Regions from separate parts of the Homo sapiens genome. Here region 1 is linked to region 2. Evidence: fine-mapped expression QTL. Tissue or cell type: coronary artery. Region 2 holds a variant in brackets; the other region holds the start of a gene. All regions are shown on one strand. Distances are from middle to middle.

Region 1 (10,658 bases), 970 kb before region 2:
AGACACCTTCTTCACAAGGCAGCAGGACAGAGAGACAGTGTGAGCGCAGGAAAAACTACCATTTATAAAACCATCAGGTTTCACAAGAACAGCATGGGGGAACCACTCCCATAATCCAATCACTTGGATTACGGGTCCCTCCCTCAACAGGTGGGCATTATAATTCAAGATGAGATATGATGGGGACACAGGGCCAAACCATATCAAATGCACTGGTAGCACATAGGAGAAGCTGCAGGTATGTCTAGGAAATAGAAACAAGACTTGGCAACAAACACATTTAATAAAAATCTGGTTTCTAGGCAACGTTGAAGGTAGGTATTTCCCATTCCTTGTTACAGGCCCCATGGACCACAAAGTGCATACAGTCGCATCCCTCAGTACCCAGTATCTGTGGGAGATTGGTTCCAGGACCAGTCCTCAGATGTTCAAGTCTCTGATATAAAATGCTGCAGTGTTTGCATAAAACCTATACACATCTTCTCATACTTTGTCATTTCTAGATAATTTACAATACCTAATACAATGTAAATGCTATGTAAATAATTATACTGTATTGTTTACAGACACAATTTTTTTTTCCTATTTTCGATCTGAGGTTGGTTGGATCCATGGATGTGGAACCCATGGATATAAAGAGCAAACTATATTTGCTTTCTTCTCTGTGCAGGGGAAGTAAGTTTGACTAGTGTATTGGTCTGTTCTCACACTGCTAATAGAGACATACCTGAGACTGGGTAATTTATAAAGGAAAGAGGTTTAATTGACTCACAGTTCAGCATGTTTGGGGAGGCCTCAGGAAACCTACAACCATGGCAGAAGGGGAAGCAAACACGTCCTTCTTCACATGGTGGCAGGGAAGAGAATGAGTGCCCAGTGAAGGGGGAAGCCCCTTATAAAACCATTAGATCTCATGAGAACTAATTCACTATCATGAGAACAGGATGGGGGAAACGGCTCCCATGATTCAATTATCTCCACCTGGTCCCTCCCACAACATGTGGGAATTATGGGAACTACATTTCAAAATGAGATTTGGGTGGGGACACAGCCAAACCATATCAACTACAGAAGGATGGGTGTGAGGGGCATGGAGTGAAATAAGGAAACTGGTGCCATCTTGTCCCCTTCCTGGGAAGGGATGATTCCTGATGGAGAGGGAAGCTCAAATTCCAGGGCTCAAAATCAGCTGCTGTGACTCTGCTTCACTTATGCCAGAAAAACAACCAAAACCAGCCTGGGTCACATGGTAAAACCCCATCTCTACAAAAAATACAAAAATTAGCTGGGTATGGTGGCTTACACCTGTACTCCCAGCTACTTGGGGGGCTGAGGCGGGAGGATCGCTTGAGCCCAGGAGGTAGAGGTTGCAGTGAGCTGAGATTGCACCACTGCACTCCAGCCTGGGTGATGGAGTGAAACCCTGTCTCAAAAAAAAAAAAAAAAGAAAACTAATCAAAAGTCTGGAGCTAGGGAGCAAGGTCAAAGCCTCTAGGTTTCTGATCTGGAAAACTAATGGCACCATCTGAGAATAGCCTATGGGAGGAGGGGTAGATTTTAGAGAAAAAAGTCATTTGGCTAAATTTTAGATAAACTCAGTCTGAGGTATCTATGGAATGGTCACCAGATATATCCAATAAGCGACTGAAAATACAGATTCTGAAGCTCATAAGAGAGTTCTAAAAATACAGCTCTGAGAGTCAGAAGGGTAAAGATTCTTTCATTAACATGTCTCTCCATCATTTCTATGCCAGAATCTTCCCCCCAAGTATTCCCTAATATACATGCAAAGTAAGATGAAAACTATTTTTAAGATTGTACCAACTTCCCTACTGGTGTGATGAACTAAAAAAAAAAGAAGACATACACAAATTTTTCTTCCACAAATTAGGGTGGACAAACCTTCACACCGCCATGAATTTTTAAAGCTCTAAGTAAACAAAAAAACATGTATCAAATAGAAAAAACTAATAATCCCTGAGTCTATCTTCAAGAAATGGTTTTGAGAATAGACACAGCTCCAGCTGTTTCCATCATTTTGTTAGGCTCTGACTTTTTATAAGGCGTAAGTCAATGAAATCCTACCAATGGTCCTTCTGGGTGATACAGCCTGTCAAGAGTCAATCTGGGCCAGGTGCAGTGGCTCACGCCTGTAATCCCACCACTTTGGGAGGCCGAGGTGGGCAGATTCCTTGAGGTCAGGAGTTCGAGATCAGCCTGGCCAACATGGTGAAACCCCATCTCTACTAAAAATACAAAAATTAGCCAGGTGTGGTGGTGGGTGCCTGTAGTCCCAGCTACTCTGGAGACTGAGGCAGGATGATCGCTTGAACCCAGGAGGCAAAGGTTGCAGTGAGCAGAGATTGTGCCACTGCACTCCAGCCTAGGCAACAGAGTGAGACTCCGTCTCAAAAAAAAAAAAAAAAAAAAAGGAACCAGGCATGGTGCAAAGCTTTCACTGCACTCCAGCCTGAGCGACTCTGTCTCACAAAAAAAAAAAAAAAAAAAGTCAATCTACTGAAATAACAGAAAATATGTAGCCCTCCTGCTGTATTGAAGAAGAAAGATTTTAGTAAGATTAGAAGAAAATCACCTGGTCTAACCCTCTCATATTATAGAAGAAAAAACTGAAATTCAGAGACTAGAAATTTCTTGGAGCAGAGTTCATTCCTGGGGCATCACTGTCCTGAAATCAGTCATCTGTCTTCTAGTTGAAAGTTTTCTGGAAACATCCTGTCACTCCAGATGTTTTTCCATGATAAATGAGCGACACTGTCCTTGAATGTATCACCAGCTGTAAATGTCATTTCTCTGATACTTTTCATTTAAAGTGGGTTTTTTTTGTTAAAATATGCAATTTTATTAAGCCCTGGTCAAATACATTAGCCTCTATAAAATGTCTCTTGTTTTAGACCTTATTTCTCATTGCAATTTTCCATTTCCTCAGCTTCCTTCTCATTATGAAAAGAGCATTATCTAACATTGAACTTGTCCTGGGCAACTGAGAGTAGGAGAGACTCACAAATGCCCCCTGCCTTCAGTTTTACGCCCAAGGGAGAGATCCCAGGTAATGCTTGCGTCACAATCAGCACACTTCTCAGTGGGGCAGGCCACTAGGCCAACTAAAACGTGGTCCCGATATCTCTGCAAGGACCCCTTGTATCTCGGAGTGGTGGGAGCAGAGAGGTGAGCCGGCAGATGGGAGGGCAAGACTTAACCTCAGATCTGTAAAAGTAACAAGTCAACAATACCTTAATCTTCACTGTAAGCTACTATCTACTGCTATCTACTGCACATAATATTTATAGTACATCTGTTCCTCTTTAGCTTATGAAAAAAGATTACAGAGTATCTACTTAAATGGAAGAAAAATCTACATTTTAATTTATGGCACCAGAAACAATGTCAGTTTTCTTTGTCAAAAATAGTCAGCAGAGGGAGCTCAACACTGCTGCTGTTCGAAATGGCTTTACTTATGCACTTGTCTCATCCCAGCCACCAACAGCCACCAACAGCCCCCAGCAATGAAGACTACCGGAGAAGAAGCCAAACTTCCTGTCCCCACATGTTTACAAAGGAGCTTGTCCACTCCACGCCTGGCAAAAAATGTCACAGTTCTAAGCTTATACACTATTGGTGGGAATATAAATTAGTTCATCTATTGAAAATAGTATGGTGATTTCTCAAAGGACTAAACACAAGTACCATTGGACCCAGCAATCCATATAGAGCTACCAATCCAAACGGAACTACCATTCGACCCAGGATCTACTCAAAGGAAACCATTGTATTAAAAAGACAACTGCACTCCTATGACTATCACTGTACTATTCACAATAGCAAAGTATGGAATCAACCTAAGTGTTCATCAACGGATGACTGGATAAAGGAAATGTGGTGTATCTATACGATGGAATACTACAGAGCCATCAAAAAGAAAGGAAACATGTCTTTTGCAACAACATGGATGGAACTGGAGGCCATTACCTTACGCGATAACTCAGAAATAAAATCAAATGCACATGTTCTCACTTTTAAGTGGGAGCTAAAATGAGTACACATAAACATAAAGAGGGAAATAACAGACACTGGGGACTCTAAAAGCAGCGAGGGTAGGAGGGGTTTGAGGGCTGAAAAATTACCCATCTGATACAATGTTCACTATTTGGGTGGTAAGTACACTAGAAGCCAACTTCACCATTACGCAATTTATCTATGCAACAAATCTGCGCAAGTACTCCTTGCATCTATATAATGTGTGTGTGTGTGTGTCACAGTTCAAGTCCAGGCGCGGCCCCCCTTTTGACAGCGACCGTAAATCCCTTTACACACCCCACCCTCCAGAGACAGGAAGGGCCTGGGGTGCGGCCAGCACTGGCGTGGGGGTCTCGCAACATGCAGCAGAGAATCCAGCGCCAAGCCGTGGGGTACAGCGGCGCCAAGCACCGCCGATTATGCGGGAGAAGGGAGCCGGCCTTCCCCAGGAAAAAGCTGACGTCACCCTCCCCTCACAGCCCCCCCCGCCCTCCCGGCCGGGAGACCCCCTCTGCGCAGGCGCATGTGGGGAGGGACGGCCAGACAGGAACAAAAACCTTCCAGGCAGCGACTCCGCGTCCCTTCTCAACCCTCCCCGCCCCCACTCCGTCGCCCCCTCCCTCAGTGGACGCCAGGTCTGGGCTTCAGGTACCTTCGGCCCGAATGCCCAGGATGAGACACCTTCTGAGTCGCCACCATTGGCGACCAGGAACAGGTTCCACCCCTACGGAAAGCTGAGAAAAGGCTTTTCTCAAGCAGCAAACCCACCTCTTTTGAGTCTTCTCCGCCATGGTACGGCCCCAATTGGAACGTAGATCGACACCACCGCCTGGGTAGAGCGATAATTCCACATGCGATTGGAGAGCCTGGCAGGGTTGGGGGAGGGGCGGAGCCGGGGTGGGGCGGGGACCCGGAAGCTTGCGACTCTTGTTTGCGTCGCGTCTGGGCGCACAGGACTGTACTTTTGGTAGCGGTGCGGGGCCGCCCGCGGACTTTAGCCCTGCATAGAGATGGGTAGACCCTAATTTGGAACAGCCATTGACTGGGCACAGGCCAGCACTTTGGGAGGCCGAGAGGCCGAGGCAGGAGGATCGCTTGAGGCCAGGAGTGCCAGACTGCGAGACTAGCCTGGGTAACATAGTGAGACCCTCTCTTCAAAAAAAAAAAAAAAAAAAAAAAAAAAAAGCCTGTCACGGTGGCCTGCGCCTGTACCCCAGCTACTCGAGAGGATCGCCTGAGCCCAGTGAAGCTGCAGCGAGCTGTGAGGATGCCACCGCACTCCGGCCTGGGCTAAAAAGCTAGATCGTGTCTCTGATAAAAGAATAAAAGCTGTTTATTGCAATCCAGTCCGCGTCATTATGCCCTCATTTTACCCACTCGCGTAGGCGTAATTACACCCTAAAGGTATTTCTCTGACCTCGCCGATGTCCTTTTCAGCCTGTCTTTCTCTACTCATTAGGGCTCCTTCTGGCCCTTTTCTCGCTCTATATGAGTGCATCCTTCCTATAGGTTAAGTGCCCTCTACCTGTTTGCTCTCTAATGAATGTCTCTGGTTCTGCCCTCTGTGCCGATCTTCACACCTGACATTCGGTTGACTAATTGACATCTCCGCTCAGAGTCGTATCGAACCTAAAACTTACAGAACATGACTTTCGATTAACACTGCCGTCCTCCCTGCAACCTGCTGCTTTTTTGATCCACACCATTTGCCTAGCTGCTCAAGCCAGACACTCAAGAGTCACCCTGGCACTCCTCACCCCTACATCTGTAATAGATCTGCAAGTTCTGCTTGTCCTACCTCGGGTCTCATGCTTACACTTTTGTCTACCGGACCATCTCTCTAATCTCAGCCGATGTGTCTCTCCCAGTTGTTCACTCATTCTGTACTTGGCCTCTGAAATCACACCTCCTCATCTCCCACCCCCAACCCTGATCCAAGTAGTTCTCTTGTAGTCAAAATCATCCTTTAAAAGACAAATTGAGGCCAGGCGCGTGGCTCAAACCGGTAATCCCAGCACTTTGGGGGGCCGAGATGGGAGGATCGCTTGAGGCCAGGAGTTGGAGACCAGCCTGGTCAACACAGCATGATCCCGTCTCTATATATTTTTTCTATAATGTATTTTTTTAATGGAAAAAAATTAAAAATAAGAGCCAAATTCAGTTATTTCCCCTTCCTCTTAAAATCTAAAATCCAAACTGCTTTCCATAACCTATCTCTGAGCTACATCCAGCCCCTGCCTACTTCTCTCTTTCTCTTTCTATGTGTTCGATCACACCCTCATTCTCCAAAAAAGCAAAGCTGACTCTCCACCCCCAACCGCTTCCACTTGCCCCCACCCTAACACCTTCTGACCCTTTATGTCTCGGATGTCACATACTCAGTTTCCAACCAGAGAAACAGAACTAGTAGTAGATGGATATCAAAAGGCTTATTGTAAGGAATTGGCTTACATGATTGTGGAGCCCCAGCTAAGCAAGTCCAAAATCTGTACACTAAGCTGGAACTCTCATGCAAGGGGTGAGGCTGTTGTTCACAGGAGGAATTTCTTCAGGGAAGCCCATCTCAGCTCTTATGGCCTTCAACTGATTGAATCAGGCCCACCCAGATTAGCTAGGATAATCTCTCTTCCTTAAAGTGAACTGATGATGGGCTTTAATCACATCCACAAAAATACCTTTACAGCAGCATCTAGATTAGTGTTTGACTAATGACTTGGGAATGTAGCCTAACCAAGTTGACACAAAAAACTGACCATCACACTCAGGGAAACCCTCCTTGACTGTCTTAGTTCTTTCTGGCTGCTATAACAAAATACAGTTGGCCCTTTGTATCTGTGGGTTTGACATCTGTGACTGGTTGACAGCAACCCACGTTGGATCAAAAATTTGGGGGAAAAAATTACGCAAGTTTCCAAAAAGCAAAACTTGAATTTGCTGCATGCCAAGTGCTACATTGAAGCCACATGAATGAAGTGATATGTAGGAATTGTATTAGATATTCTGAATAATATAAAGATGATTGAAAGGATATGGGAGGATATGCATCAGTTAGTTATATGCAAATACTACACCATTTTATATCAGGGGCTTGAGCATCTGCAGATTTTGGCATCAGGGTGTCCAGGAACCAGTTCCCCAAGCATACTGAGGGACAGTTATACCTTAGACTGGGTATAGTAGTCCTTTCTTATCCTCGGGGGATACATTCCAAGACCTCTAGTGGATGCCTGAAACCACAGATAATACTGAACCCTCTATATACTATGCACACATTTCCTTTTCCTCATTAACAGTTTCATGGGTAAAAGATTTATTCTTACCATAGATCTTAGCAACCTCAGCATATAGTTTTTTTTCTTTCCTTTTGAAATCAAGAAGTTTTCACATTTTCACTTAAAGCATTTTACAGTTTCTCTTTGGCAGATCCAAATCACCTGCATCGCTACTTTTGTGCTTTGGGGCCATTATGAAGTAAAATAAGAGTGACTTGAACACAAGTACTCTGATACTGCAACAATGTATCTGATAACTGAGAAAGCTTTAATGGGCAGGTAGTACCAACAGTGTGGATACAAAGGGATGATTCATGTTCTTGCCTAGAGAGAGCAGCATGGTACGAGAGTTCATCATGCTACTCAAAATGGTGTGCAATTTAAAACTCACAAATTGTTTATTTCTGGAATTTTCTATTTAATATTTTTGGACTGATGTTGACTACAGGTTACTGAAACCACAGAAGATGAAACCATGGATAAGTGCGACTACTGTTATTTATAAACAAAGACATTTATTGCTCACAGTCCTAGAGGCTGGGGAGTCCAAGATCAAAGCGCTGGACATTCTGTGTCTGATGAGAGCCCTCATCACCTAATCACCTCCCAAATGTCCCACCTCTTAATTGCCAAGTAGTCAATAAAATATCAGATGTGAGGCTCGGCAGAGAGGACAGAACCTTGAAGGTATTATTTCAACATATGAATTCTGGAGGGACAAAAACATTCAGACCATAGCACCATCTAATCAAAAATAGGCTACCCTTCCTATTCTAATTATTTTCTCTGTGGGGTAAGGATTGCACTCATCACCAGCTATACTTACTTATCTTACCATTTCCTCCAAAGACTTAAGTTCCATGAAGTTAGAGCCATGTGAGTTTTGTTCCCACTCTTTACTCAGCACCAACCACAGTGCCTGGTGCATGGTTGATATTCCTCTAAACTTGTTGAATAAGTATATGAATGAATTTAGAGTGTTTTGTCACTGCCAACCATGTAAACACCTATCCATTTTCAAGCAATGTGTATTTATATTAATTTGAAAGACTTCTATGGCATACTTATAAAGGATCATTTTATCAGTATTAGGTACAGTGTCTAGGGCCTATAGGCTTTTTGGGGATCAACGAACTGTTTGAAACCTGAAAATAAAATGTACTGATTCCAGAATGTAAACCGTACAGGTAGGAATTAATTAATGCTAAGGCCAGGCACAGTGGCTCACGCCTGTAACCCCAGTTCTTTGGGAAGCTGAGGCAGGTGGATTGTTTGAGTTAGGAGTTCGAGACTAGCCTGGGCAACATGGCAAAACTCTGTCTCTACAAAAAATACAAAAATTAGCGAGGCATGGTGGCACGTGCCTGTAGCCCCAGCTACTTGGGGCCTGAGGTGGGAGGATCACTTGAGTCCGGGAGGTCAAAGTTGCAATGAGCCAAGATCATGCCAGTGCACTCCAGCCTGGGCAACAGAGCAAGAGCCTGTCTCGATAATAAAATAAATAAATGCACACATACTTTTTTTTTTTTTTTGAGATGGAGTTTCACTCTTGTTGCCCAGGCTGGAGTGCAATGGCGTGATCTCGGCTCACTGCAACCTCCACCTCCTGGATTCAGGTGATTCTCCTGCCTCAGCCTTCTGAGTAGCTGGAATTATAGGCACCTGCCACCATGCCTGGCCTTTTTTTTTTTTTTTTTTTTTTTTTTTTTTGGATTTTTATTAGAGACAGAGTTTCACCATGTTGGCCAGGCTGGTCTTGAACTCTTGACCTCAGGTGATCCACCTGCCTCTGCCTCCCAAAGTGCTGGGATTACAGGCATGAGTCACTGTGTCCAAACCCACACGTACATACTTAATTCAATGTCTACAAAGCAACTTTTTTCTTAACTAATCAACTGCAATTCAACTCTTCTATACCTAGAAATTATATTTGATGTGGGATTTGGTTTCATTCAATATGTTTAATATGATGTTATCTTATTTAGTTCCTTAGGGAGCCCTCTTCTTCCCTGTTGGGAATAGGCCCCCAAAATCTGGTCATAAACTGGCCCCAAAACTGGCCATAAACAAAATATCTGCAACACTGTGACATGTTCGTGATGGCCATGACGCCCACGCTGGAAGATTGTGGGTTTACCAGAATGAGGGCAAGGAACACCTGGCCCACCCAGAGCAGAAAACCCCTTAAAGGTGTTCTTAAACCACAAACAATAGCATGAGCGATCTGTGCCTTAAGGACATGCTCCTGCTGCAGATAACTAGCCAAACCCATTCCTTTATTTCAGCCCATCCCTTTATTTCCCGTAAGGAATATCTTTAGTTAATCTATAGAAACAATGCTTATCACTGGCTTGCTGTCAGTAAATATGTGGATAAATCTCTGTTCGAGGCTCTCAGCTCTGAAGGCTGTGAGACCCCTGATTTCCCACTCCGCACTCTATATTTCTATGTGTCTGTCTTTAATTCCTCTAGTGCCGCTGGGTTAGGGTCTCCAGGACCGAGCTGGTCTTGGCAAGTGGCGCCCATACGTGGGGGCTCAAACCCAGGTCGAAGAGTCATCAGAGCAATGGTTGGAGAATGTGGAGCTAAGCTGGAGGACACCCAAGTACTCTTAAAGCAATCCCCGTGGTGGGTAAGAAGGGGAGCTCAGAAGCATCAGGGTAACAATGGGACAAGTGTGGGCTCTGGTTCGTTCCACTTTGGAACCTTTTCACACTGATGATGAGGAAGGAGAGTATAACGAGATAACAGAAGAGGTTACAGAGGAGGTTTATTTGCCAGCTAAAGCTAAAGTGGCAAAGGAGGGAGAGGTTCATCCCTACCCTTCTGCACCCCCTCATTATTATTTTGAAGAAAAAGAGTGGCCTCACCCTCCAGATCTTTCTTTTCTGGAGGACACTGAGTGAAAAGTAGTTGCCCCAGTGACTGTTCGAGCAGCGCCTCCAGCGACCACTCTCAGTTCTATTCAGGCAGGAATTCAGCAAGCTAGACGAGAGGGTGATATAGAGGCTTGGCAGTTCCCTGTTAGAATACACCCACCTGATCAACAGGGAACTATTACAGCTACATTTGAGCCTTTTCCTTTTAAATTACTCAAAGAATTTTAAACAAGCTATTAATCAGTATGGACCAGGTTCTCCTTTTGTAATGGGACTGTTAAAGAATGTTGCTGTTTCCAGTCGGATGAGTCCTACTGACTGGAACACTCTTACTCGAGCTGGTCTAATTCCCACTCACTTCTTACAATTTAAAACTTGGTGGGCAGATGAAGCTTCCATTCAGGCTGCTCGCAACACCCAGGCCCAACCTCAAATTAATATAACTGCAGACTAACTTTTGGGGGTCAGCGGC
Region 2 (10,658 bases):
TTGGGAGGCGGAGGCCAGCGGATCATGAGGCCAGGAGATTGAGACCATCCTGGCTAACACAGTGAAACCCTGTCTCTACTAAAAATACAAAAAAAAAAAAAAAAGCCAGGCGTGGTAGCGGGCGCCTGTAGTCCCAGCTACTCAGGAGGCTGAGGCAGGAGAATGGCGTGAACCTGGGAGGTGGAGCTTGCGGTGAGCTGAGATCACGCCACTGCACTCCAGCCTGGGCGACAGAGCGAGACTCCGTCTCAAAAAAAAGTAAAAATGTAAAAAGCAGTACAGTATGACAACTATTTACATAGCATCTACTTTGTCTTAGGTGTTTTAAGTAATCAAGAGATGATTTGAAGTATATGGGAGGATATGTGTGGGTTTTATGCAAATACTACACCATTTTATATAAGGACTTGCACATCTGTGGATTTTGGTATTCATGGGAGGTCCTGGAAGCAGTCCCACTCAGGATACTGAGGGATGACTGTATACACATGTGATAGGGCTTTTGAAGTGAGAACTAAGCTTACAAGAATCAGGATGGTTTTTACTTAGCCTTATTAAGAACAGAATTAATTAAATAAAATTATGGAGATAAGCGTGGAAAGCTAGAACAGGAGAAACTTCGTTTGAGCTCCACATTTTATTTACTCCTACTCTGCTGTAATGATTCTCACTATGGGTGACACCTGGAGTTTGCAAGGCAGCTCCCCCCAGTTTGATGCCCAGTCCTTTGGGGCCATCTTCCATCCTCCTCCTTTTGCTCCTCTGTGTTTGAAAATGGCTTAGTGAGCCACCACTGCTGATAGATATACGTTTTAGCTTTGGAAAAACATGGAGGGTGAGCAGTGTGTAACACAACACTGCAGCTGGATGATGTCTTCTGGGCCCAAGGGCTCTCAGGGGCTGTCAGCCGCTGGGGGTCTGCTTTCACTTCCTGGCCTCGCTTCCTTCTCACAGCCCCATCCAGGGAACAGGTGTCTCCCCTGCCTGCTGTTTCACACAGAGATGCAGGTGTGCCGATCCTCACCTGTCCAGAGGTGCTGAGCCAGTCGTCCTCTCGGTTGCTGCCAGGGTTATCTGCCTCCCCCTTTAGTTGCCCTTCTGGTACCTCCCAGAACTGCTCACTGGCTTTGCAGCCTGTGCTCTCCCTGCAGGCCCCCACCCTTACCCCCATCAGTTTCATTGGAACTATTTTTTCAGGAGTTTCTCAATTCTGATCCAGGCACAAGCAAGCACTCTTGGTTTCAAAACCTTGTTCTTTTTTCCCCCTTCTCTTCCTTTTTGGCAATTTCCCCACTTCCCCCATCGCCTGTCGTTTTGAGTTAATTTTAGCTGGGTGATGGATATCAGTATGCATTATTAATTTACCATCTTAACCTAATTTTCTTTCTTAAAAAAATTAACCTTTTAGACTTCTGGTCCAGATAATCTTGTGAGTTTACACAGAAACATTCTCCTGCCAACATCAAAATTATAGCAGAGATAGATAAAATATTTTAGAATGTGCGAATCATGTAATCAAACTCAAAAACAAATTTAGACTGGGCATGGTGGCTCACAGCTGTAATCTCAGTACTTGGGAGGCTGAGGCTAGAGGATTGCTTGAGGCCAGGAGTCTGAGACCAGCCTGGGCAACATAGTGAGACCCCATCTCTACACAAAACTAGAAAAACACAACAACAACATATATAACTTCAAGGACCAGCAGTAAGCGAGGGCTGAAGTGACATATTTCCAGGGCTTTGGAATCAGACCAGGTGCCTGGAGGTGATTGGAAGTTCAACTCTTGCCGACTAATGGGGGCACTGGTGTATGGTTGGGGACTGGAGCCAGGCTCACCATGTGAAAACTGATTTGGGCGAGCCTTCTCTGTGAGTGAAAGCTTACAGTCAGTTTTTGGCCACCAACATTGAGCTAATGTCTGTGTTAATAGGAAGGGATGGAGACATTGGGCCTTGAGAAGACCCAAAATCTGGGCTTCAGTAATGGAAATGACAGCATAAACTAGTCATGGAAAGGTGGCCATCAGGAGAGGAAAAAATAAGCAATCATGTAAACCATAAAATAAACACTCCCTGCTAAGATGTACCTGCAAACTAACATGCAAACCATCATCAGGAAGCATAGCAACAGACTCCCAAAGTGGGAGAATGTGACAAAATGTGAACCGAGATACATTTTAAAACAATTGCACTTAAAATCTTTACGGAGATAAAAATCACAAAACACAAGTAAGTAGATTTCAAACTGACAGAAATCGAAAAAGTGAAAGATGCAGTCAGTGAAAAATTTGCCTTTGCTTAGTTGGTTTAAAAAGAAATAATTAGTGAAAAAGAAGCTTTTCAAACAGTGCAAAAGAACTATGTGATATTCTAGAAAGTGGTGATAAGGTGAAAGATCAAAACAGATCATCTGTAAGATCCCACCAAGTAGCATTTTAATACAGATTGTTCCTGCTTTTTATGCATATAGTTTTTTGGTACAAATATGGAATCATACTCTAGACTTTTATAACTTTTTCATTAACATAAACTTTTTTTAAATTAGTAAGTCTTCTATACCCTCAAATCTATACTTGCACATGGGCATGTCATAATTTATGTAAACATTCTGCTATTTTAAGCTATTTTGGACATGCTATAGTGAGCATCTTTAAATGTTATTTAAAAAATATCTTTTTCTTTGACTACAAAAATAAAAATATTGAAAAAATATAAAAACATGAAACAGATCACTAATTTCGCTGCAAAAAAATAAACTATAGATGTAATTCTGTGTGTGTGACTGTAGGTGCATGTGTGTGTGCAATAGCCATTTTATTACACATTTTGTGAATAGTTTTCCATGTAAAATATAGAGTCATATCACCTATAGCATGTTTAGTTCTCATTGTAAGCCTCTACATACATAATTAATTCCCATTGTATGACAGTAAGTTGTTTTATTTCACTATTATGAACAGTTCTATCAGTTATGGTTTATAAGTAATGTTGAGGTTTTCTTAACACACACTTATGTTCATTTTCAACAGGTGTTTGCTTATGATCATTGTTTCTGGTCTATGGATGAATCTGTCAAAGAAAAGTATGCAGGTAATAGAATCCAGCATCCTGTCAACTACTGATGGTGTAGAAGAGGGGTTCAGTATTTTTTCCCTTACACGATTGCTTGGCAAACCCCCCAAACTGTGTGTTTCCTCTGCTGTCACACCACAATAACAGTCATCAACACAGAAGATGACTTAATGTGACCAAATGTTGGGGGAGTTTTCCCTGCACCCCAAGCGGCAGACACTGGCTGGGTGTCCTCTAACTCAGTTCCGATGCTCTCTACCTGGGGACAGCGTCAGATCCACAGACTGAGGGCTCAGTCCCACAAGACCGCTCCCTCCTTCCCACCAGCGCAGGTCCAGGCCTCTAGAACTTCTGACCTACTGGCTTCCAATTAGGGTTCCCACAACCTCCTCTTTGGGTTTGATTAATTTCCTAGAGCGGCTCACAGAACTCAGGGAAACACTTGTGTTTAGGGGTTTATTACGAGGGATTTTCTTTAAAGGAGACAGGTAAACAGCCAGATGAAGAGATACAGAGGGTGAGATCTGGAAGGGTCCCAAGCGCAGGAGCTTCTGTCCTCATGGAGGTGGCGCGGCGCCCTCCCGGCGTGTGGATGAGTTCTTACCTTCCTATTGGGCCCTGTGTGTTTAGCAATCCAGAAGCTCTCTGAACCCAGTCCTTTTAGGTTTTTATGGAGGCTTCCTTATATAGGCATGATTGTCAACCGATTAGAAATGTGATTTGACAAAAAGTGCATGACTGAACACAGCACGTCCTGTCTGTTCAGACTTTTCTTGGCCATTCTGTGTAGCATTCCTTCCTTTAGGATATGAGGCAAGACCTTGTGGAATGAGAAGCTCTTGACCCACAATCAGATGAGAGTCTTGCCTCCGGCAGGTAAAAGGAGGGCAGGAGATCAGATAGTTTCCTGAGGCTAAAATGCCCCAACATGTAAAAGACTGCAACAAGGGTTAATGAGCCAGGAACTGCGGATGGTAACCTACATCTCTATAATTACCATAGGATATATATGAGTACCATAGGATTCTTTTGCATAACTGTAGAAAGTACAGACAACACCCTCCCGTGTTTGCTATTAGAGTTTTTAATGTTGATTGGAAAATGGGAGATTCACTGTGTGCCATTCTTGGTATACGTTGATGAAATTACATCACTAGTACACACAGTGGCTATTCCACATTCACACGCCCCAGCTCTTACATGAGGCCGGGAGCACAAGGTCGCCCCTTAGATTGCCCTGGAGGCCTGAGACTGGGCTGGAGAGACAGGATGGCATAGTGAAAGAAGGGGAGCACCGGCCAAGGAGAAAAGGAACCCTAGGCTGCAGGCCCAGCCCTGCTTCTTACCGCCCCTGCGCCTTTCAGTAAATCACCTCACCTGTCAGAGCTTCAGTTTTCTCTTTTTGATGGAAAGGAATATGCCATATTCTCTCTAAATTTTCTTTTGGCTCTGGAAGTCTGTTACTCTATTATTCTTCTAAATGATGACTGTCTCAAGCCCCATCTCACCACAAGTTTAGGACTGCAGTGACAGCCTTTGATTGCCTTTATTCCTTACTGCTTTTGTCGCCTGTTTTTAAACAATCTCTTTTAAATATTAAGCATCATATTGTTTTGGCTTCTGTTATGAGAAAGATGAATATTATGGCTGTTTTGAAGTTAAGATTCATTTGGTCTAGGTGGCCCAATATCAGAAGTATAAGTTAACTGGTATTAAAAAAAAAAAAAAAGGAAATGAGACATAATGGAATACCCTTGCCATAACATAAAAGCATCCAGTTCTTCCATGTGGTATTGAGACTAAGTGAGGTAGGGTGACTTGTCAGATTCACATTCAATTACTGACTAGTGACATATCTCATTTGGCCTGTCGGGGAGAATTTGACTCTGTTCTTTATGTCCATGATTGAAAGCTGAGGGAAATTTCCAGGCTCTGACTCCCTGTCCTAACTGGTATGTGTTGTAGATCCTGTAATTAGAAATTGTCACTGAGGGAAAGGAGAGGGGGTTGGTATATATGATTATTCTAAACTCTGGTACCCACCGAATAAAAGCATTGCCTGAGTGGTAAATAGTTAAGTCCAGGTACACCTGGGTCCCAAGTATAAATTTCAGATATTTATAATCATTGATTATAAAGTGAGCAGCTCATTGGCTCTGCATTGCAGGGGATTCTTAGTCGTGTTTATTTATTCAAGCATGTATTACAGGGAGCTGATTTTCCCTCATGTGCTAACTAGAAATAACCTGGAAGGCATAAGCCTTTGGGAGCATTCGTCAAATTTAAAAATCTTGTTTGGAGATAAATAAGCAGATTATACATTTTTGAGATTTTTGTTTTTGTTTTGTGAATTGTTCATATGTAGTTTTGGCTTAAAATATCTTTTCTCTTATTCTCTCTCTCTCAGGTCAAGATATTGTTTTCAAGTGCCTTGGAGAGAATATCCTGCAGAATGCTTTTGATGGCTACAATGCATGTATCTTTGCCTATGGACAGACTGGTAATGTTAAATAACATGAAATCACATAAACAACCATCAATGAAAGAAAATAGAACCATGTTTATTTTACTGAGTAACATTGCTGATTTATTCCTTGTTGTTTTTGCTTTCAGAAAGTACTGTAGATGTTGAAAGTAGTCAGTAACATTATTTTAAAATGAGTGTAATAAAATTAGGATTGGGATCTTTTATCTTTACTGATTTTTCTCACAAGGCACTGGCAGCATTGTTTTTCGAAAAAATACAGAGCTATGACTGTTGAACACATTACTAGCCATGCCTATAGATCATGCTTTTTTAAGGCTTTCAGAACCATAACAGATAAAATACCAAAAAGAACATACTTGTTAATATCTCACCAGTAATAACTAAGAAGCTTTTTGGCTTTTGAGTCTCTGTGGTCAAGAAAAGAAAATTTGAAGTGAACTAGTTACTTTTGTAAGAGTAAAGTATACAGCTTGTCCAACTAGAAATGTTCTCACAGAAGAATGTGTTGGATATTTTCAAGAAGCCTCATGTGTCGTGTTGAAAGGGCAGAAAGCTGGGGCCAGGCGGCGACAGCTCCAGTCCTGCT[CCTG/G]CAGCTGGCCAGCAGAGAGACCTGGGCAGTTACTTAACCTCTCTGCCCTTCAGCGTCCTTATCTGGAAAGGCTGATGATCATAGACCTTCTTGTAGGGTTGTCATAACGAGTTCCCATGTGCAAACTTTTTACAGAAGTCCTGGTACTTAGGAAATGTGGCACATTAGCTTTAGGTATTATGATAACAATAAAATGTTGCATGACAAAAGCAGCAACTTGTAGGTTAAAAGCATATTTGCAAAAACACTGCTACTAAAAACAGAAGGAATTATACTTAAGTGTCAGTAGTTACTGGTTTTCGGGCAGTAGGACTATGGTAATTTAAGTTTTTTCTTTCTATTTTCCTGTGTTTTCTAAATTTTATTTAATATATATTTCTTTTACAACGGAGAAAATCTTTTATTTTGAGACGGAGTCTTGCTCTGTTGTCCAGGCTGGAGTGCAGTGGCACAATCTCTGCTCATTGCAGCCTCTGCCTCCCAGGTTCAAGCGATTCTTCTGCCTCAGCCTCCGGAGTAGCTGGCACTACAGGTGCCTGCCACCGTGCCTGGTTAATTTTTTTGGTATTTTTAGGAGAGAAGGGGTTTCACCATGTTGGCCAGGCTGGTCTCAAACTCCTGACCTCAGGTGATCCACCCACCTTGGCCTCCCAAAGTGCTGAGATTACAGGCGTGAGCCACCGCATTCAGCCGAGAAAATAATTTTATATAAGAAAAAAGATTATTCTTTAGTTTCCACACTATAGTGAAAGGGTAGTGAGTTAATTTGCTCTGGGGTCCACAGGGAGAACCTATATTTTTTGTGCTGTGATCACTGGTTGGGAGCAGGCACTATAGTATTAATTATATGGCTCTTTCAGCTTATTTCGGAAAACTTTTAGACCTCACTATTTCTCACTTGTTTTAGGTATTTTCTTAAAGTATGAGGATGATTAAATAAGTTTATTTTTCTTTTTTTTTTTTTTTTTGGAGATGGAGTGTTGCTCTGTAGCCCAGGCTAGAGTGCAGTGGCGCAATCTCGGCTCACTGCAACCTCCGCCTCCCGGGTTCAAGCAATTCTCCTGCCTCAGCCTCCCGAGTAGCTGGGACTACAAGCACGTGCCGTCACGCATGGCTAATTTTTCTTTTTTTTTTGTATTTTAGTAGAGACGGGGTTTCACCTTGTTGCCCAGGCTGATCTCGAACTCCTGAGCTCAGGCAATCTGCCCACCTCAGCCTCCCAAAGTGCTGGGAATTACAGGCGTGAGCCACCGCACCCAGCCTATTTTTCTTTCTAAAGGACATTTGCTTTTCACTTTCACATGTGCAGTAAAAAAGCTTCTGTACTTATTATTCTCATTATATTTGGGTGTATTTCTCACTGCATTTTGGCGTTTTGCCAAGTGTTTATTATGAGCAACGGAAAGAGGGTTATGTATTTAACGTCTCAAAGAGACAATAGTAACTCTGATTTCCATTTTTTTAGGCTCTGGAAAATCTTATACCATGATGGGCACAGCTGACCAACCTGGATTAATCCCAAGACTTTGCAGTGGACTCTTTGAACGAACTCAGAAAGAGGAAAATGAAGAACAGAGTTTTAAAGTAGAAGTGTCCTACATGGAAATTTATAATGAAAAAGTTCGAGACCTTCTTGATCCCAAAGGGTAAAGGACTTTGAGACTTTAGTGTTTCAGCATTGTGAACTGAAACAGACTTAAATTGGCTTAAGTGCAAATCTTTTTAATTTTTTCAGAGGGTCTCGCTCTGTCACATAGGCTTCAGTGCAGTGGCACAATCATAGCTTACTTCAGCCTTGAACTCCTGGGCTCAAGAGTTTGTTTGTTTGTTTGTTTGTTTTTAAACCCAAGAAATTTCAGGTGGAATTCAGCTCTTTGTGGGCTGTGAGGTGAGGGAGAGGCATAATCAGAGAGATGAAACCTAGTCTTTAGGACAGTGAGTTTTTAAAGATTCTCAGGAACAAAAACAAGTGCCCATGATTTCATGGCACAGACTTGTAAAGAGAATTGGATTGGAAGTCTTAGGAGGCCTTCACAAACGCTGGTTTGACTCTACAGCTGTAACTGAGTGAGGAAAGTGCACGGTATCTAGAAATCTGTTCATTCCACAGAGTTTTTCGAGTTCAGATTTTAAGGAAGCGCAACAGTGGAGAAAGATGGAGATAATGACCACAGCCTGTGGCTTGTTGATGTAAAAACAGCATTAGGAAGGTCAAAGAGCCAAATAAGCTGAGGCCTACAGAAAGTTTGCAGGACAACAGGAGGACATTTAGTTTTGCTGGATGAGGAAGATGATCAAGGAAAAGAGGATCTTAGAGGCAGTGAGTCATAGTGACTCTCAGTCAAGAGCAAACAGAACCCTCAGCTCCTCTCTGTTGTCAGTTTTCCTTGACCAAGATGATAATCTTTAGGATTCTAACAGGGAGATTGAATTGATGCTCAGTGCTTCTGTACAAACTTTACTTAACAAACATTTATTGAGTGATCATTATATGCCAGGCACTATGCAAGAACTCACAGTGTGGACAGAATGAGAGTTTTGTAAACAAATAATTAAAATACAACGCTATCTGCTTTTAGCTTGTGAAGGAGGCTCCTACAAATTAGAGAGCAAAGGGACAATGACTGATCTTGCCCCTAGGAGAAGGGAAGATTCCAGAGTGTACTTGCTTGATAACATTTGTGCGGAGTGGGAAGTTGGTCCACTGGGAAGTTGGGTGAGAACTACTCAGGTGTAGGGAACAACCTCTCCCACACCTTGAAGGTGTAAATTAATCACCTTTGGAGAATGATCCAGCAGTTCAGTGTGGTCGGAGAGTAGGATGCACAGAAGTCAACATGGAACAAAAGGAGGCCAAGATGGGAGGATCGCTTGAGCCCAGGAGTTTGAGGCTTCAGTGAGCCAAGATTGTACCACTGCACCCCAGCCTGGGTGACAGGATGAGAGATTCATCCTGTCTCAAAAGAAATTAAAAATAAAAAATGTTCCAAAACAAAGAGGCTAGAGAGTACCTTACGGTCCAGGTACCCACATCCTACTTAATATTATATCCCTGTATATTTTTTTCTTTGTTCTGCCTTGAACACTTTTTCTTGGACTTTGACCTCGCAAAGATCATCACTTTTCTGAGATCCAGCCCAGACCTACTCTTTCCAGAAATTCTTAGCTGACTGACTTCATACCTGTTCATTCTTCTGCTTAATCCAGAGTGCTTGTATGGCATCTTTTTAACTTATCTGCACATGTACAGTCTTTAGTAATTTCTCCTATGTTTGTCTTGGGTATAGGTTAGTAATTAACAGCTTACTTACGGTAATTACTTACAGTAATTAACAGTGAATTCTGAAGAGCTTCGGATTTGCATAGCTCAGGATCTAGGTCCTCTACTTGTTACCTATTGAACAAGTTTCTTAAGCTTTCCAGGCCTAACTTGTCAGCCTAGAGGGAACTTGAAGAGGGAAATGATAGGATACAATTATCTCAGAGGGCTGTTGTGAAGATAGACTGGGATGATACACCTGAGGTCTTAGAACATTTGCTGGCATACAGTAAGTGCTCAATAAGTGGTAGCTGCTGCTATCTCCCCAGTGAAAATTTCTTGGAAATTTTTTTTTTTTAGTTTCTGAAGATTCAAAGTAAATGGATTAAAATCTCTAAAGGTGATCTCATTTCAGTCAAAGACCATTTGAGAAAACTTCATTTTTTATTCACGTACTAATTATATTAATTCAGCATCTAGTATATAGTAATGTAATTATGTTGTTTTACTCAGGAGATAATAGAGGATACATTAAGAAAAAGGAAATATGAAAGGAAAAAAGTCAATAATAGACTATATCCTGGGCGAGAAGTAAATCAAATATTCTATATCTACTTTATCCAGTTACATGGTAATAAGTGACATTTTTAATGGTTGATCCTAGGGTACTATAGATTTTAGATTTAAGAGTCATTTCCTTATCCCCTGATTTTACTGTTTATATGAAGGGTTATTCTAGAACTATCCTCTTCTTGCTGTCTTTATTATGGGTGTTAGTGATTGAATGTGGTTCAGCTTCTGTGCTAGTCATTCATTATATGTGTTCTACATTTCTTCCCTTCCTCTCCTGCCTTCTTAGTTACTAGCACTCGCTCTCCAAATGACGGAAGCTAACACATTTGGAGTCCTCACTGTCATCTTAATCTCTCTAATCTTCACTTTGTTAGTGAAGTCTGTTCATTCACTTAGTGATTCTTATGTGCCAGGACTTGTGCTAGGAACTGCAGACTCCCAAAATAATTAGACATTATTCTTGCTGTTCTAGAGCCCAAAGTTTATTATAATACAAATGGATAAAAGTAAATTAATTCATGCCTAAGGTGAGGATAAGGAGAAGCTGACTAAGAGGTGGTCAAGAGCAGATTATAAAGGAGCATGCGTAGCAAGCTGAGGAGTGTGCACCTCTCTTCATAGGCGTCAAAGAACCACCCAAAAACTTGACGCATTGGTTGGGCACGGTGGCTCATACCT

Direction of the effects. Positions count from the first base shown, and alleles are read on the strand shown. Sizes are in standard deviations (SD) of each study's normalised expression.
For the expression in coronary artery of the gene that starts at base 4,841 in region 1, CCTG is the low allele of the variant in region 2 and G is the other (moderate effect, 0.61 SD a copy in GTEx).

Evidence for each region. PIP is the estimated chance that this variant, and not a neighbour inherited with it, causes the effect.
Region 1: DCTN6 starts here. The variant in region 2 is fine-mapped to the expression of DCTN6 in coronary artery (GTEx, PIP above 0.99).

Annotation. Positions count from the first base shown.
Region 1 is chr8:30,150,552-30,161,209 of GRCh38, reverse strand. DCTN6 (dynactin subunit 6) reads right to left here and starts at 4,841. Exons shown (of 7, transcript NM_006571.4): 1 at 4,804-4,841. The coding sequence starts at 4,826. DCTN6-DT (DCTN6 divergent transcript) reads left to right here and starts at 4,550. Exons shown (of 1, transcript NR_186490.1): 1 at 4,550-5,381. It overlaps LOC124901927 (a long non-coding RNA gene), which reads left to right and starts at 3,100. Exons shown (of 2, transcript XR_007060880.1): 1 at 3,100-3,186; 2 at 3,328-4,038. RefSeq lists a silencer at 4,471-4,580 and enhancers at 4,641-4,790, 4,734-5,716, 5,541-5,750.
Region 2 is chr8:29,183,428-29,194,085 of GRCh38, reverse strand. It overlaps KIF13B (kinesin family member 13B), which reads left to right. Exons shown (of 40, transcript NM_015254.4): 4 at 3,029-3,089; 5 at 5,479-5,571; 6 at 7,614-7,794. Among named protein-coding and RNA genes, the nearest start is that of KIF13B, 74 kb to the left of the region's middle. The variant CCTG/G (reference allele first, on the strand shown) is at 6,146.